Regions from separate parts of the Homo sapiens genome. Here region 2 is linked to region 1. Evidence: fine-mapped expression QTL. Tissue or cell type: whole blood. Region 1 holds a variant in brackets; the other region holds the start of a gene. All regions are shown on one strand. Distances are from middle to middle.

Region 1 (8,106 bases):
ATAAGAAAGAAAAAAGAACATATAGAACAAAAGAAAAGAAAAAGAAAAATTGATATGTAATCCATTTTGTAAATGGATGGATTAAAAAAATAAAAAATAAATGGATAGATTCAATTAAATCCAATCATTTCAATAATTACATTAAATGTAAATGGACCCTTCCCTTTAAAAATATTTATTGCCTGTCTACCTTCCTACCTTTCTTTTTTCTTCTTCCTTCTCTAAAAAGCCATTAAATAGGCAAACAGAAGTGGCTCAAGGGCCACATGTAAGTACATAACCAGAGTGGGGCAGATTCAAGAGGCTGCTGGAGAGACGACACAGAGACAACACAGGTAAGGGTAAGCAGAGAAGCCAAAATGGGGCTTGCATGTCAAGGAGGCAGCAATCTGGAGGGGTCAGAAGAATCAACTTTGTCACTGTTAGGATAAGATACAAATATGGGAAGGAAGAAAGCCAGAATGAACCCCATGGTGTTGGACTGGAAGTAGAGTGTATAGGGTTGAACTCATGTTTTTCAACACATGGAGAAGTAGACAGACAGACAAATAGAAAGGTAACGTGTGTATTGATACAGACATATATATATTTGGATATGTATATATATATCCTAATATTTCCCAGCTCAGCCCACTGAAAGGGGTTGTTATATATCCTTACATATTCCCAGCTCAGCCCACTGAAAGGGGCTGGGAACAGCATCATCCCAGTAGCAATGAGCATCCAGAGAGAGCATCCAAACATCTCTCCCACTCAGAGAAGTCAGGGCCCCTTGGATAAATGGAAGATTACAAGGCTGATCCAAGGAAAAAACAAGATGAGCCTGAAACTTTTTTTATACTAGAAGCTATGGAAATGCTCAAGGAATGATGGAAGATATGTCAAAAGGACGAGGGGCCAGTTTGAAGGACCACTCACTGATGCAGAAAAAGATGAAAATTACTATCTTTTTAGAAATGAAAGATATGTTATGTAAATAAAGTTAACATGTAGCATTCTGAAATGCATAAATTAGAAGTTAATACAGGATAGGAATAAATGAGCTAAAATTTCAACTTAAAAATACAGAAAAAGAAAAAATTCATAAAGTAGAAGGAAAGCATTTAAAAAGATAAAATTAGAAATTAATAAAAGGGAGCACAAAACAAAATATTAACATTGCTTAATAAAATATACCAACCTTTAGCTAACATGCTCAAGGGAAAAAAAATACACAAACAAGAATGAACTAGGGACAAGGGTATAGGGCATAGAATGAGATGGTGAAAGTGGAGGTTACAATCCCAGCACTTTGGAGGCCAAGATGAGTGGATCACGTGAGGTCAAGAGTTTGAGACCAGCCTAGGCAACATGGCGAAACCCCGTCTCTACAAAAATACAAAAATTAGCCAGGTGGTATGGCGCGCACCTGTAATCCCAGCTACTCAGGTGGCTGAGGTGCAAGAATCGCTTGAACCCGGGAGGCGAAGGTTGCAGTGAGCTGAGATTGTACCACTGCACTCCAGCCTGGGTGACAGAGTGAGACTCTGTCTCAAAACAAGAACAAAAACAAAAACAAAACAAAACAAGAAATAATCTTAATGTCCTTCAACTAGGGCTATAAAATAATTTATCAGACCTCATGCCAGTCATTAGAAAACAAAAAGGTAGACCTGTACATACTGTTATGGAAAGCAAGTCTCAGAATAACACATAGAATGTAATAGCATTTCTGTTAAATATATACACACACACACGTGTCAGGTCGAACCATATGAAATTGCCATTTTTGTAAATCAAAACTTCTTCAATATTGGCAATTCCGTATGATTCAATCTAACACAGAAACTCACAGGAAGGAAGTCACAGTCTGGAAAGAAGGAAAGGAGTCTGGGAGGCAAATGAAGGGGGCATTTGCTTCTTATTCCATATTTCTGTTTTGCATGAATCTTTTGTGATAAAAAGACATCCATTCGTTATGTATTTTAAAACAAATAGTTGTTTTTAAGACCTGCTGCTTTCCATCCAGCCCCTTGGCTCTGTCCAGAAGAAGACATTCAGCCCCCACCTCTCAGCTTCTCCCATCTTCATCGCTGGCCGTGAAGACAGTGTCTGGGAAGAGAGAAGGACTGCCATCCTCCTGGGGAAATAATTCAAGCTATGGAAGATGCTCTAGTGTGATTCCACGTTGGAAAACCAAGAACAATGGCCAGGCACGGTGGCTCACACTTGCAATCCCAGCACTTTGGGAGGCCGAGGCAGGTGGATCATTTGAGGTCAGAAGTTCGAGACCAGCTTGGCCAACACGGTGAAACCCCGTCTCTACTAAAAATACAAAACTAGCTGGGCGTGGTGGTGTGCACCTGTAGTCCCAGTTACTTAGGAGACTGAGGCAGGAGGATCACTTGAACCCGGGAGGCGGAGGTTGTAGTGAGCCAAGATCACACCACTGCACTCCAGTCTGGGCAACAGGAGTGAAACCCTGTCTCCAGAAAAACAAAACAAAACAAAACAAAGAAAACAAACAAACAAAAAAAACAAGAACACCCTCAGTGCCCAAATGCAGGAAAAGTAACCTGGCCATCATACGCAGCACCACAAAGATGACTTCTGACAAACTTTGGTTCTTGTATACACCCTTTGCATATAAGGTACAAAGGAACAAAACTATGGCTGTATGGAAATAAGCTCATAAAGGAGACTGGGAGAAAATGTCCCTAAATGATACCAGTGGTTGGAGAGAGGGGATGGGATTATGAGTCATTTTCCTTTATTTTTTTGAGACATGGTCTCGCTCTGTCGCCCAGGCTAGAGTGAAGTGGTGCAATCACAGCTCATTGCAGCCTTGACCTCCCAGGCTCCAGCGATCCCCCCGGCCTCCTGCCACCCCTGCCACCCCACCCCCAGTAGCTGGGACCACAAGCACATGCCACTATACTGGGATATTTATAATTATTATTATTTGTGAAGATATGGTCTCTCTGTTGCCAGTCTCAAACTCCTGGGCTCAAGTGATCCTCCCGCCTCCACCTCCCAAAGTGCTGGGATTACAGGTGTGAGCACCAGGCCCATTTTCTTTATTTTTCAAACTTGTTATTACAAGATTTGACTGTTTTTACAATCAACCTAAACAACATGAAACACACTGAAATATAAACTGAAAACTATGGCTTATTAGCCCTGCCCAGCTGGTTTCTATCATGTCTGATGGTGTCTATAAACATCAAGAGGGCGATTGTTCCTTAAAAAAAGCAGGTTCAGCCAGTGGTTGAGAATCCAGCATCTGGAGCCAGACTGGCTTGGTTCAGATCCCAGCTCTGCCAGCCCTGACCAAGTTATTTAACCACTGCAAGATTTGGTTTCCTCGGTTGTGAAGTGGGAATCATATCAGTACCTACTTCAGCGGTACTGTTGTTAATAAAGATTAATTGCTAAGGAACTGGGCCGGGCACACACTCAGTGCCCAACAAATGCTGGCAGCTGTTAGTATCACAATAATCATTTTTATTCAAAGTGCCTCTTTATTGCCCTTAGACACTATTAAAGCCAAATGAGATGATGTCTGGGCAAGAACGAAAGAGCTGGCCAGTCCACACAGCAGCCTGGAGAATGAGTCCTCACGTGCGTGCAACCTCTGTTGGTTCCAAGTATGTCTATTTAAGTGATCACTCAGCAGAGCGGCAAGACAGGTCTGATTCTGCATTTAAGCTTGCTAAGAGGATAAGTAACTCTATGCTGTTTTGCACAAGAAATGCCTTAGAGGCTGGGAATAATGCCACAATCCCATCAGCTCCTCCTGAGCCCATGGGGGCCTTTTGCCCTAACTGCTTCTCCCTGTATGCTGGGCTGTTCCGTTCCCTGGGGTTCTCTTCTGACAGCCGGAGGACCCCTGCCAGGCACTCCACCAACTCCAGCACCAACCCTGCCCTGCTCACCCAGTCTCATTTTCAGGGAACTTGGAAGTCTTTGCAGACCTTTAGGAAACGTCTTTTTACACTTAGGGTGGTGGGATGAGGGCAATCAGAATGCTCATGGTGGTCATTTTACACATGTTAAAATCTTGTATTGACCTAGAACACACATCCTGAAAAATGCACACATCATAAGCCTATAATGTTCATAAATTTTTAAAAACTAAACACACCCATGGAACATGAAACAGAACATTGACAGCACCCCACAGGCCCCTTCTGAAAGGTAACTACTAATTATCCCGACTTCCAACAATAGTAAATAGTTTCATCTGCTTTTTTTATTTTTTTTGAGACAGGGTCTCATGGCTCACTGCAGCCTCAACCTCCTAGGCTTAAGCGATCCTCCCACCTCAGTCTCCTGAGTAGCTGGGACTACAGGCATGTGCCACCACGCCTGGCTAATTTTCGTATTTTTTGTAGAGAAGGGGTTTCACCATTATCGGGGAACCTGCCCCGATAATCACGTAGGTTCTTTTCCATTTTTCCTAAGCATCGGCTGGCTTGAGAAACAAAGGGACAGAGTACAAAAGAGAGAAATTTTAAAGCTGGGTGTCTGGGGGAGACATCCCACGTTGGTAGGATCCGTGATGC[C/T]CCACAAGCCACAAAAACCAGCAAGTTTTTATTAGGGATTTTCAAAAGGGGAGGGAGTGTGCGAATAGGTGTGGGTGACAGACATCAAGTACTTAACAGGATAATAGAATATCACAAGGCAAGTGGAGGCAGGGTGAGATCACAGGACCACAGGACCGAGGTGAAATTAAAATTGCTAATGAAGTTTCGGGCACCATTGTCATTGGTAACATCTTATCAGGAGACAGGGTTTTGGGATCAACCAGTCTGACCAAAATTTATTAGGTGGGAATTTCCTCTTCCTAATAAGCCTGGGAGCACTATGGGAGACTGGAGTTTATTTCATCTCTGCAGCCTCAACCATAAGAGACAGGCTACGCCCAGGGGGGCCAGTTCAGAGACCTACCCGCAGGCGCACATTCTCTTTTTCAGGGATGTTCCATGCTGAGAAAAAGAATTCAGCGATATTTTTCCCATTTGCTTTTGAAGGAAGAGAAACATGGTTCTGTTCTGCCCAGCTCACCAGCAGTCAGAGTTTAAGGTTATCTCTCTTATTCCCTGAACAATTGCTGTTATCCTGTTCTTTTTTCAAGGTGCCCACACTTCACATTGCTCAAACACACATGCTGTACAATTTGTGCAGTTAATGCAATTATTACAGGGTCCTGAGGCGATATATCCTCCTCAGCTGACAGGATCAAGAGATTAAAGTAAAGACAGGCATAGGAAATCACAAGGGTATTGATTGGGGAAGTGATAAGTGTCCATGAAATCTTTACAATTTATGTTTAGAGATTGCAGTAAAGACAGGTGTAAGAAATTATAAAAGTATTAATTTGGGGAACTAATAAATGTCCATGAAATCTTCACAATCCACATTCTTCTGCCATGGCTTCAGCCAGTCCCTCCGTTTGGGGTCCCTGACTTCCCGCAACACACCATGTTGCCCAGTCTGGTCTCGAACTCCTGGACTCAAGCAATCCACCTGCCTCGGCCTCCCAAAATGTGGAGATTACAGGTGTGAGCCACTGTGCCTGGCCTGTAGTGCCATCTGCTTTTGAATTTGATGTACAGAGACCCCTGCCATATGTATGTCCATGTTTGGCCTCTTTTGCTCAGTGTTACATTTGGTGAGATTCACCCATTTCATTGTGGATCACTGAGGCTGGTTCATTTTCATTTGTGTGTAGTATCCTGTTGTACAAATGCACCACAATGCATTTTTTCTGTCTACTATTAATGGGCACTGGGCCACTTCCACTGTGGGGCTATTCAGCATAGTACTGCAATGAATGTTCTCCTGTACATCTTTAGTAAACACATGCAAAAATTCCTGTTGTGCCTTTACTTAGAAATGAGATTGCTGGGTAGGCGTATATTCAGCTTTAGCAGATGCTGTCTAACAGGTTTTCTAAGAGGTTTCCCTAATAGGTATTTTTATAGTATCCTTTTACTCAGTTGATTCAAAGGTATAAAATATATATTACATAGAACTTGGATTGTCCATAGAGTATCATAGGAAGGCCCTCAAGCAAAGCAGCTTCACTATCTTCTCTAATGACAACAGCTATAGCCCAGAGAGACAAATACATCTTAGAAACCTGGACTCTATAGGCGGCCAGTCCAACCTCCTTACAGACCCTTAGACCATTCCAACGCCACCTGTAAGGGGAACTCACTGACATCCTAATGCTGATTATTCTACAGCTCAAGTTGTCAGAAATCCCTTTCTCCTCCTTTTGCCTCCCCCGGCCCTGGGTCTGCCCTCTCCATGCCAGTTGCTATGGTTTGAATATGTGTCCCCTCCAAAACTCATGTTGAAGCTTTATCTCCAACATGACATATTGAAAGATGGGACCTTTAAGGAGATTGGGTCATGAGGGCTTTATGAGTGGATTAATCCATTCATGGGTTAACAAAGTAACAGGTTAATGGATTAACGGGTTATCGTGGGAACGGGACTGGTGGCTTTCTGAGAAGAGGAAGGGAGACCTGAGCCAGCACACTCAGCTCCCTCACCATGTGATGCCCTCTACCTCCTCAGGACTCTGCAGAGAGCCCTACTAGCAAGCAGGCCCTCTTCAGATATGGCCCCTCAACCTTGGACTTCTCAGCCTCCATAACTGTAAGAAATAAATTTCTTTTCCTTATAAATTACCCAGGAACAGGTATTCTGTTATAGGCAACAGAAAATGAACTAAGACATCAGTCTTCCGAGTTTTGACAGTGGTACTACATCCCCCTCTTCCCTGTCCAAGCTGAAAGACCCAGACTGTGTCCCACAGGCAATGGGACCTGGCCAGGCTAGAAGGCCAAGATCCATTCATGTCCCCAGACCTTGCACTGCCTATGTCTTTGCAGTCCAGAGCTCAGGACAGCTCATCTGCAGCTTGGAGCTTAGGGTTTCAGAAAGACCATTCCGAAGTCTTACAGGTCCTGGCCAAAAGGTCAGGCTATTGTGGACACAGCTGAGAAGCGGGAACAACCTGTCTGCTATTCTATGCTTGCCTACAAGTGCCAATTGACACTTTCTCACCCCATCCCTGAGGTCAGGCTCCACCTCCCTCCTGCACAAGTCCCCCTGTAAGAAAACTTTAGTAGATATTGCCCCACTAGCCCTGGCCCCTGCGAGTGAGCTGGCCCTGAGCCCCCACCCCGGGACACATGCTGCCAGTGGCTCACTTACTGACTCGATAGCCCAGGCCTTCTGCGTGAATCCTCTTGGCCATGAATTGTCCTTCAATTAGTGCTCGAACCTCCACATCCCCAGGGAATGCTGCAACCTGTCTCCAGGAAAAGGTGGGCACAGAGTAAGGAACTCTCATTGTCCATTCGTGTGTGTATGTGTGTGTCTGTGTGTGATCTTTTTAAACAACAGCCCAGATTTGAAACTCATAGCTGGGCTCTTTAACCACTATCTTTGCCTGTCACACACACTCACACAAACACACTACTCAAGCACACAAGCTCACAGCCTCACATGCATGTCACTTTGAAGAGAGTCAAGAGACATTACAGAACTTAGTCTCAGGCAGCTGAGAGTTCAAGTTCTGTCTACCATTCAGCTCTGCAATCTTCAATAAGTTACATTAGTCTTGCTATCATTCTTTTTCTTAACAAAACAGAGGTAATAGTGGCGCCTGTTTTTTAGGGTTGTTGCAATGATCAGATTAGACAACAGAGCCTGGAAAATGCAGTACATACTAGATAAGTGAGAGCCACGAGCTTACGCTGAGATCCCACCCCTGTGGCATGTCCTTCAAGCTAGCACTGATGGGCATCAACCCCAGGCTCACTCCTGCTTCTCTGGCACCTGAGACCAATGCTAGAACCTGCCGCCATCCCCCTCATAAACAGCTACACTCTAACCTTACTGACCTTCTTCTAGTTCCCAAGCTGCTCCCTCTGCCTGAAAGTCTATCCTACTCTTTCCATGGTGAGATCCTGAGTACTTTCAGGTCTCAACCTAAAGGCCACCTTCTCAGAGACGCCCAGGCTTGATCACCCCACCCAGGGTAAGTCTCCAACCCGCCCACCAGCTGCTTTCCTTTGCGGCACTCTGTTCTTCTGCAACCTAGCCTTA
Region 2 (8,106 bases), 220 kb after region 1:
ACAAACAAAAAAAAAAACAACCCAATGGGCAGTCCAAGTGGACAAAAGATTTGAATAGATATTTCACCAAAGAAGATCCATGAAAGTCTAATAAATAAGGACATGAAAGGATGTTCATCATCATTAGTCATTAGGGCAATGCAAATCAAAACCACAATGAGATACCACTTCATAGTCACTAGGATGGTTACACGCAAAAAGACAACAAATTTAGAGAAACAAGAACTCTTATAATTACTAGTAGGAACATAAAATGGTACAGTTACTTTGAAAATCAGTTTGGCAGTTTCTTAAACAGTTGAATTTGTGATATAACCCAGCAATTCCACTCCTGGGTATACATCCAAGAAAAATGAAACATATTCATGGGGTGACTTGATGTGAATACTCAAAGCAGCCTTGTTCCAAACAGCCAAAAAGCAGAAACAATCCAATGCCCATTAACTGGTATCCAATAAAAAGGAACCATGTACTACATGGCAGATGGATGAACCTCAAAAAGCATTATGGAAAGTAAAAGAAGCCAAACACAAAGGACCACATATTATATGATTACATTTACATAAAATGTCCAGAAAGGACAAATCTATAGAGACAGAAAGTATATTTGTGATTGCCTGGGGCTGGGGGTGGGAACAGGGAGTAACTGCAAATGGACATGAGGCATCTTTCTGGAATGATGGAAATGTTCTAAAATTGGATTGTGGTGATGACTGAACAATTATGTAAATTTACTAAAAGATTATTGAATTGTACATTTTAATCAGGTAAATCTTATGGTACGTAAATTATATCTCAAAATTGTTTTTTTAAATGAAAAAATATTTATGCTAAGTGGAAGAAACCAAACATGAAAGACCACATGTTATATGATCCCATTTATATAAATGTCCAAAAAAGGCAAGTCCATAGAGACAAAAAGTAGATTTGTGGTTGTCTAAGGCTGGAGGTGGAAAAAGGGATTAACTCGTAAGAAAGCACAAGAGATCTCACGGGGATGATGGAAATATTCTAAAACTGGATTATGGTGATAGTTGTACGACACAGGGAATTTACTAAAAACCACTAAATGTTACACTTAAAATGGGTGAATTTTATATTAAATTATACCTCAGTAAAGTTGTTTTAAATCTATGAAAGATGGTCAAATCACATTGGAGTTCCTAACCTTTTAAAAACCATGGACCACTTTGTGAATGTGAGGAACACTAACCCTATCCAGAAGACTGAGAGACTCCCTTTTGCCCACTCACAGACATCCTATGGGTCTGAGGACACCAAATTAACAAATCACGAAATCTCTAGCGCCTTTGCAACTCTGAAATTCTCTGCCACCTTAACAGCAAAGGCTTTGAGAATGACTACAACCATCCTCTTCACCCTAGAAAGATGGATACACTACCAGAAAAAAAAAAAAAAAACTCTTCTTTTAAAATGATGATAGGGAACCTCCTCTTTACTTCTCTGACATCATTTTGGAATCTTCCATTTAATCCTTTCCTTCAATATGAAACTCTGACTGGGGGAACCAGAAGCAATCAGTCCAGACCGGGAACTAGCTGTCTTTAGAACCAACGAATACATGTCAAAGACCCAATATGTAGCAAGGACACAGGCCCATGAAGTGGCTTAAGCAAAGATGTGATGTCTTTATTTAGTCCGAGTTGTTTTGTTTTGTTTTTGTTTTTCCTATACGAACCAATATTGCTTTAAGCCCAGATTGTCTTAAAACAAGAGGCAAGTAAAAACAAAAATTATTTCACGAAGTTCTTTTTAAACCCACAGTGAAATAAACACTGACACCCCCAAGGCAGCTAGGAAGTCTTCAGTTGGTCTTTGTTATAAAACTAATTTTAGGGCAGGATGCTGGCAAAGCAGATAATTCGCCTTCCTCCAATACACAGGTGTCTGCTCATGTCCGTTGGATTGAGCCTGTATAGCTAAACATTTTGATTTCCAAGGTCACTGGGTTATTGTTGTCCAACAAATACTCCCCTCATCCCCAGTCCCCAGCCTCCTCCCAATCCCTAGGCTTCTGTGAGAATTACAATCTATGTGCAAGTTTTGGTCTCTGCCAACTGGTATTCCTGGACCCCCTTCAAATCTTTTCACACACCAGCCCAATTTATCGGATCACGTCAAGGCACTATTTGAGGGCCTCCAGTGATACTTAAAATTCCAAAATCTGTACCAAAGCTGAGAAGATCCCTAAGATCTGGCTCCTCCCTTCCCTCTCTATCCTTGCCAGCCTTCCTTCAGGTCCTAAAACAAATCAAGCTCTTCCCTTACTCAAGGCCACTGCATCTCTATATCCCTCTGTAAGGAAAAATCTTCCCGAGGCTCTTAATCCTCACTTCTCATGCTTCAGGGCTCAACTGAAATGTTATCGCCTCAGAAAAAGAATTTTCCTTGAAATCACCCTAAGTAGATCTCCAGGTTATTCTCTATCAGAACATCTTGTTTATCTCCTTCATGGCACTTGCCAAAGCCTCTTCAAATTTTTTTTTTTTTTTTTTTTTTTTTGAGTCAGAGTCAGGGTTTGTCGCCCAGGCTGGAGTGCAGTGGCGCGATCTCAGCTCACTGCAAGCTCCGCCTCCCGGGTTCAAGGATTCTTCTGCCTCAGCCTCCCGAGTAGCTGGGATTACAGGCGCGCACCACCACACCCAACTAATTTTTGTATTTTTAGTAGAGACGGGGTTTCACCATATTGGCCAGGCTGGTCTCGAACCCCCGACCTCGTGATCCGCCCGCCTCGGCCTCCCAAAGTGGTGGGATTACAGGCGTGAGCCACCACGCCCAGCCCTTCTTACTTCTTTTTGTCTTCTTATTTAATGTCTACCTCCCCGACTGGAAAGTCAGTTGGAAGGAGTCGTAAGTTGGGTCTCGGTTGCTCAGCGCGGTTCCTGCAGCTTCACCTGGAGGATCCCCAGTTCGCCCCAGCACGGATGGAGGAAAAACTTAAAGCTCCCTATCTATCCCACAATCCCAGAAATCGATGGCTGTGCCCACTTCAAGATCCCATTTCTCACACAGCCTCGGAAAGGCCTGTCCCACACCTGCACTTTCTTTCTCTACAAGACACATGGGCCGCTCCTGTCCACACATTTGAGAATCCTGTACACAAATCTCTCCTGAGCCCCCTCAAGCCTCACCCCACCCCACGCCACCTCACAGGCGCGCGCCTCAAAACCCCCTTCCCGTCTCACACGCGCTCCTCGACACAAGCGTCCTACAAGCCCCCAGCCCCACAAGCGCCCCACGAATTCCTATGAGGGCTGCGCTCCCCGAGCTCCCGCGGCTCCCCACGTTCCCGTGTCCCCCGCCTCCCAGCGCCGCGCCTCCCCCCTCCGCAGCGCCTGCTCTCACCGATCACCTCCTGCAGCTCGTAATCGTCCCTGTTGATGGACCAGGGCAGGGCGCTCGAGTCCTCGGACATGACGGCGGCAGCGGCTCGCGGTCCTCCCTCAAACTCGCTGACCTCGCTCGTCTCCTCGCCGCGCGTCTCCCCACCCCCAACAGCCGCCGCCGCCGCCGCCGCGCCCCCACCAATCGTCTCGGAACAGCCACGGGTCGGACGGCGCCGGGGCGCGGGGTCACCGCGCGGCAGAGCAGCGGGGGCTCAGAGCTCCGGCGGACCTCGCCTCCTGCTCCTCCGAGTCCGGCACTGCCCGGCCCAGCCCACGTCCTGTCCTCGGCCTCCGCAGCAGCAGCGACAGAAGCTTTGCCTGGGCCCAGCCCCTCTGTCCCGCCCTCCACCCCAGCCCCACGCACGGGCCAAACTTTCCCCTCTTCCTCCACCTGCCGACACGCAGCGCGCTGACGTCACTGCGCTGGTCACGCCCCACCTCGGGCCCGCCTCCGGCCGCCATCTCCAGTGTGGCTGGATGTAAAGTGAGCAAGCTAGAAACCCGAGAAGGTAGGAGTTCGCGGTGAAAGGGAAGAAGTGCTTAGGTAGAGGTTCATCGAAGGCATCGAAAAGCCGTAGGAGAGCCTCAAGTAGCACAGAGGCAGTAGCCACACTAAGCATGGCGACCAAAGGGCAGCAAAGTAGAAGGGGCAGAGCCACTTCTAGCGCCTGGGGCACGCTGCTGTCTCCGTCGTCGCATTCATTGGTTTGTTTGAGAAGGAATCAGAAAAGCAATGGGTGTGGGTAGACGTCAGTCATAAATTGGTCCCGCCTCCAGGCTCTTAGCGCGCTTCTCCGTGTTAGGGCTGCAGCCCTTCAAGAGCTCCGTTACCGCGCTCGTCTTACCACTTCCTCTGGAGTGACGTCACGGCGTAACCGTCACACCCTCGAGACGTGCGAAAGGCTCTACAGGGTGTGGAGAAACCCTGAGGGAGCGGCTGGGTGGGGTAGCCTTTGGGTGTGGACCACTGCCAACTAGGATAAAAGGCCTTGGGCCACTGGTCGGAGTGAAACTGGAAGTTTGCCTGGTGACATTTTTTTCAAGGCGGACGTTCTCTCTAACGCTTGTCGCGGCGCTGTCTCTCGCGGGTCCACCCTGCACTGGGCGGGTTCTGTCCATTCGCAGCTTTAGATCTGAAGCTCAAATAAGCACCTGCCTTGAGGGACTCGGGAGGTTGTCTTTCTTCCCCCCGGACAGGGCTTGGGGTATTAAACAAGTGAGATCGACCCACGGATTTGGGGGTTGTCTCACGGGCGTTGGCTTTTGTCGCCCCCACTGAACAGTTTTCTCAGTTTGACTACGTACGGCCGTTAGAGAAATTAGCGAGCTGAAGACTGAACACGCTTGGTAAATTGGATTTTAAAAAATAATGAGCATCCAACAGGGATAGGGCTAGGTGCGAAACTGTTCTAGGTTGGACACCTTTCAGTCCAACGGCAGTCTTTAAGGAAGAGACCTTAGGCCGGGTGCGGTGGCTCACGCCTGTAATCCCAACACTTTGGGAGGCGGAGGCGGGCGGACCACCTGAGGTCAGGAGTTCGAGACCATCCTGACCAACATGGTGAAACTCCCTCTCTACTAAAATACAGAAAAATCGCTGGGCGTGGTGGCTGGCGCCTGTAATCCCAGCTACTAGGGAGGCTGAAGCAGGAGGCGAAGGTTGCAGTGACCCGAGAGCATGCCACTGCACTCCAGTCTGGGCAACAGACGGAGACACCGTCTCAGAAAAAGGAAGAGACCTTCACCTAGGCCCAGCTGAGACGGAGCAGGGACCCCTTTTAGGGCCTGCAGGCCCTCAACCATGGAAATAAAGGAAAATCTTGAGTTACTTCAAGAGAAATTCCCGGCACTTAGCTAGCCTTGAAAAGTTAATGAACCCCTTGATAAGCAAGAGGGCAGTAATAACTTTAAACATTAGCCAAAGAAACTAAAATAACTGGATGTTTGGTTCCCTATAAAAACTAAAGATAACATCAACACATGTCCCTGAGTTGTTTTTTAGAAACCCAGACCCCCACCAAATGGATCTGCTGGCACATAGACCTCAGAGAATGGGGAGCTAAGGACTGAACTCTGACTGGTGGTTTGTTTTTTCTCTAAGTTTCTTCTTCCTGAAGAAGGTCATGCCCACAAGCTGTAGCTAACATTCTTTTCTACTGATCCGAAATTTTTAGACAAAGCTTCACCTCTTTTATCAATCGCAAATCAGAAAATCTTTGAATCCACCTATGACCTGTGGGCTCCTGCTTGGAGATGTCCCCCCTTTTTAGGTCAAACCAATGTATAACCTCTGTGTATTGATTTATGACTTTACCTGTAACTTCTTCTTTTCCGAAATTACCCCTATCTTTAAGAATGCTTGGCTGGGCGCGGTGGCTCACGCCAGGAAGTTTAGGTCCCCAGTATGTATTTCATAAGTTTATGAAATATGTATTATATATAATGTATATTTATATATATATTAAGCTTGAGCTACACTAATTCTCCCCTCTTGCTAGGCGCCCTGCCTTTCTACTGCAGCAAAACCTCCGTGTGGCAATCTAATGTCACTGCACTGGGCAAGTAGACCTTAGTTTGGTTCTAAAACACCGCCAAGCACTGGAAGCTCTGCGCTGAGCTCTGCTGTGGGAGGTCCAACTGACCATGAAACCAGTCAACTAGAAGCTACTAGCGGGTTTCCACCTAGTTGGTTGGATTGGAGAACGTTTCATGAAGAAGGTAGCATTTGTACCAGATCTTGCAAAGTTAACATGATTTCAACAGGTGCACATTTAGAGGATAGAATAGTCCAGGCTCAGCAAAGGTGCCGCAGTTCCAGAAAGCATAGCACAGGCCTTGCTGTAAGTGGTTTTCAGCCATTACTACTGACAGTTTCTTTACCATATGTTCTGCCTTTTTCTTTTTGCAGGGAGGAGAGGGATGGGGATCAAATGTATCAGAAAGGAGCTAAATCTGATGGTAAGAATTAGCCTCAAGGTTTGTACCAATAGAAAGGTCTACAAACCAGAAATTCTTGGCTTGGGGTTGTTGAGTTGTATGACCCATGGACATACTTCAGTTTTGTTTTTGTTTTGTTTTGTTTTATTTTGTTTTGTTTTTTTCTCCCTGGCACGGTGACTCAAACCTGCAATCCCAGCATTTTGGGAGGCCCAGGCAGGTGGATCACCTGAGGTCAGGAGTTCGAGACCAGCCTGGCCAACAGGGTAAAATCCCATCTCTACTAAAAATACAAAAATTAGCCACGCGTGGTGGCTGGCGCCTGTAATCCCAGCTACTCAGGAGGTTGAGGCAGGAGAATCGCTTGAACCCAGGAGGCAGAGGTTGTAGTGAGCCAAGATCATGCCACTGCACTCCAGCCTTAGCGACAGAGAGTGAGACTCCATCTCAAAAAAGAAAAAAAGAAATTATATATGTATTATATATGAAATATAGACAATATGTATGAAGTATATATACTATATATAAATATATATGAAATATGAAATATATAACATATATGAAACAACATGAAATCTATAATATATATGAAATATATAACATGAAATCTATAATATATATGAAATCTATAATATATATGAAATCTATAATATATGAAATATATAATATATATGAAATATATAATATATGAAATCTATAATATATGAAATATATAATATATATGAAATCTATAATATATGAAATATATAATATATATGAAATCTATAATATATGAAATATATAATATATATGAAATCTATAATATATGAAATATACATAATATATGAAATATATTATGTATATGAAATATACATAATATATGAAATATGTATATGAAATATACATAATATATGAAATATGTATATGAAATTACATAATATATGAAATATGTATATGAAATATACATAATATATGAAATATGTATATGAAATATACATAATATATGAAATATGTATATGAAATATACATAATATATGAAATATGTATATGAAATATACATAATATATGACATATGTATATGAAATATACATAATATATGACATATGTATATGAAATATACATAATATATGACATATGTATATGAAATATACATAATATATGACATATGTATATGAAATATACATAATATATGACATATGTATATGAAATATACATAATATATGACATATGTATATGAAATATACATAATATATGACATATGTATATGAAATATACATAATATATGACATATGTATATGAAATATACATAATATATGACATGTATATGAAATATACATAATATATGACATATGTATATGAAATATACATAATATATGACATATGTATATGAAATATACATAATATATGACATGTATATGAAATATACATAATATATGAACTATATTATGTAAATGAAATATACATAATATATGAACTATATTATGTAAATGAAATATACATAATATATGAACTATATTATGTAAATGAAATATACATAATATATGAACTATATTATGTAAATGAAATATGTATATGAAATATGCATTGTATATGAAATATGTATATGAAATATGCATTGTATATGAAATATGTATATGAAATATGCATTGTATATGAAATATGTATATGAAATATGCATAGTATATGAAATATGTATATGAAATATACATGAAATATACATGAAATATACATGAAATATATACATGAAATATATTATACATGAAATATACATGAAATATAACGC

Evidence for each region. PIP is the estimated chance that this variant, and not a neighbour inherited with it, causes the effect.
Region 2: OXSR1 starts here. The variant in region 1 is fine-mapped to the expression of OXSR1 in whole blood (INTERVAL, PIP 0.96).

Annotation. Positions count from the first base shown.
Region 1 is chr3:38,378,446-38,386,551 of GRCh38, reverse strand. It overlaps XYLB (xylulokinase), which reads right to left. Exons shown (of 19, transcript NM_005108.4): 15 at 7,210-7,306. Among named protein-coding and RNA genes, the nearest start is that of XYLB, 36 kb to the right of the region's middle. The variant C/T (reference allele first, on the strand shown) is at 4,545.
Region 2 is chr3:38,161,207-38,169,312 of GRCh38, reverse strand. It overlaps OXSR1 (oxidative stress responsive kinase 1), which reads right to left and starts at 3,776. Exons shown (of 18, transcript NM_005109.3): 1 at 3,367-3,776. The coding sequence starts at 3,436. LOC101928234 (a long non-coding RNA gene) reads left to right here and starts at 3,837. Exons shown (of 5, transcript XR_940733.2): 1 at 3,837-3,916; 2 at 6,316-6,365. RefSeq lists silencers at 3,282-3,331, 3,382-3,771 and enhancers at 3,003-3,618, 4,012-4,111, 4,382-4,511, 4,662-4,741, 3,902-5,101.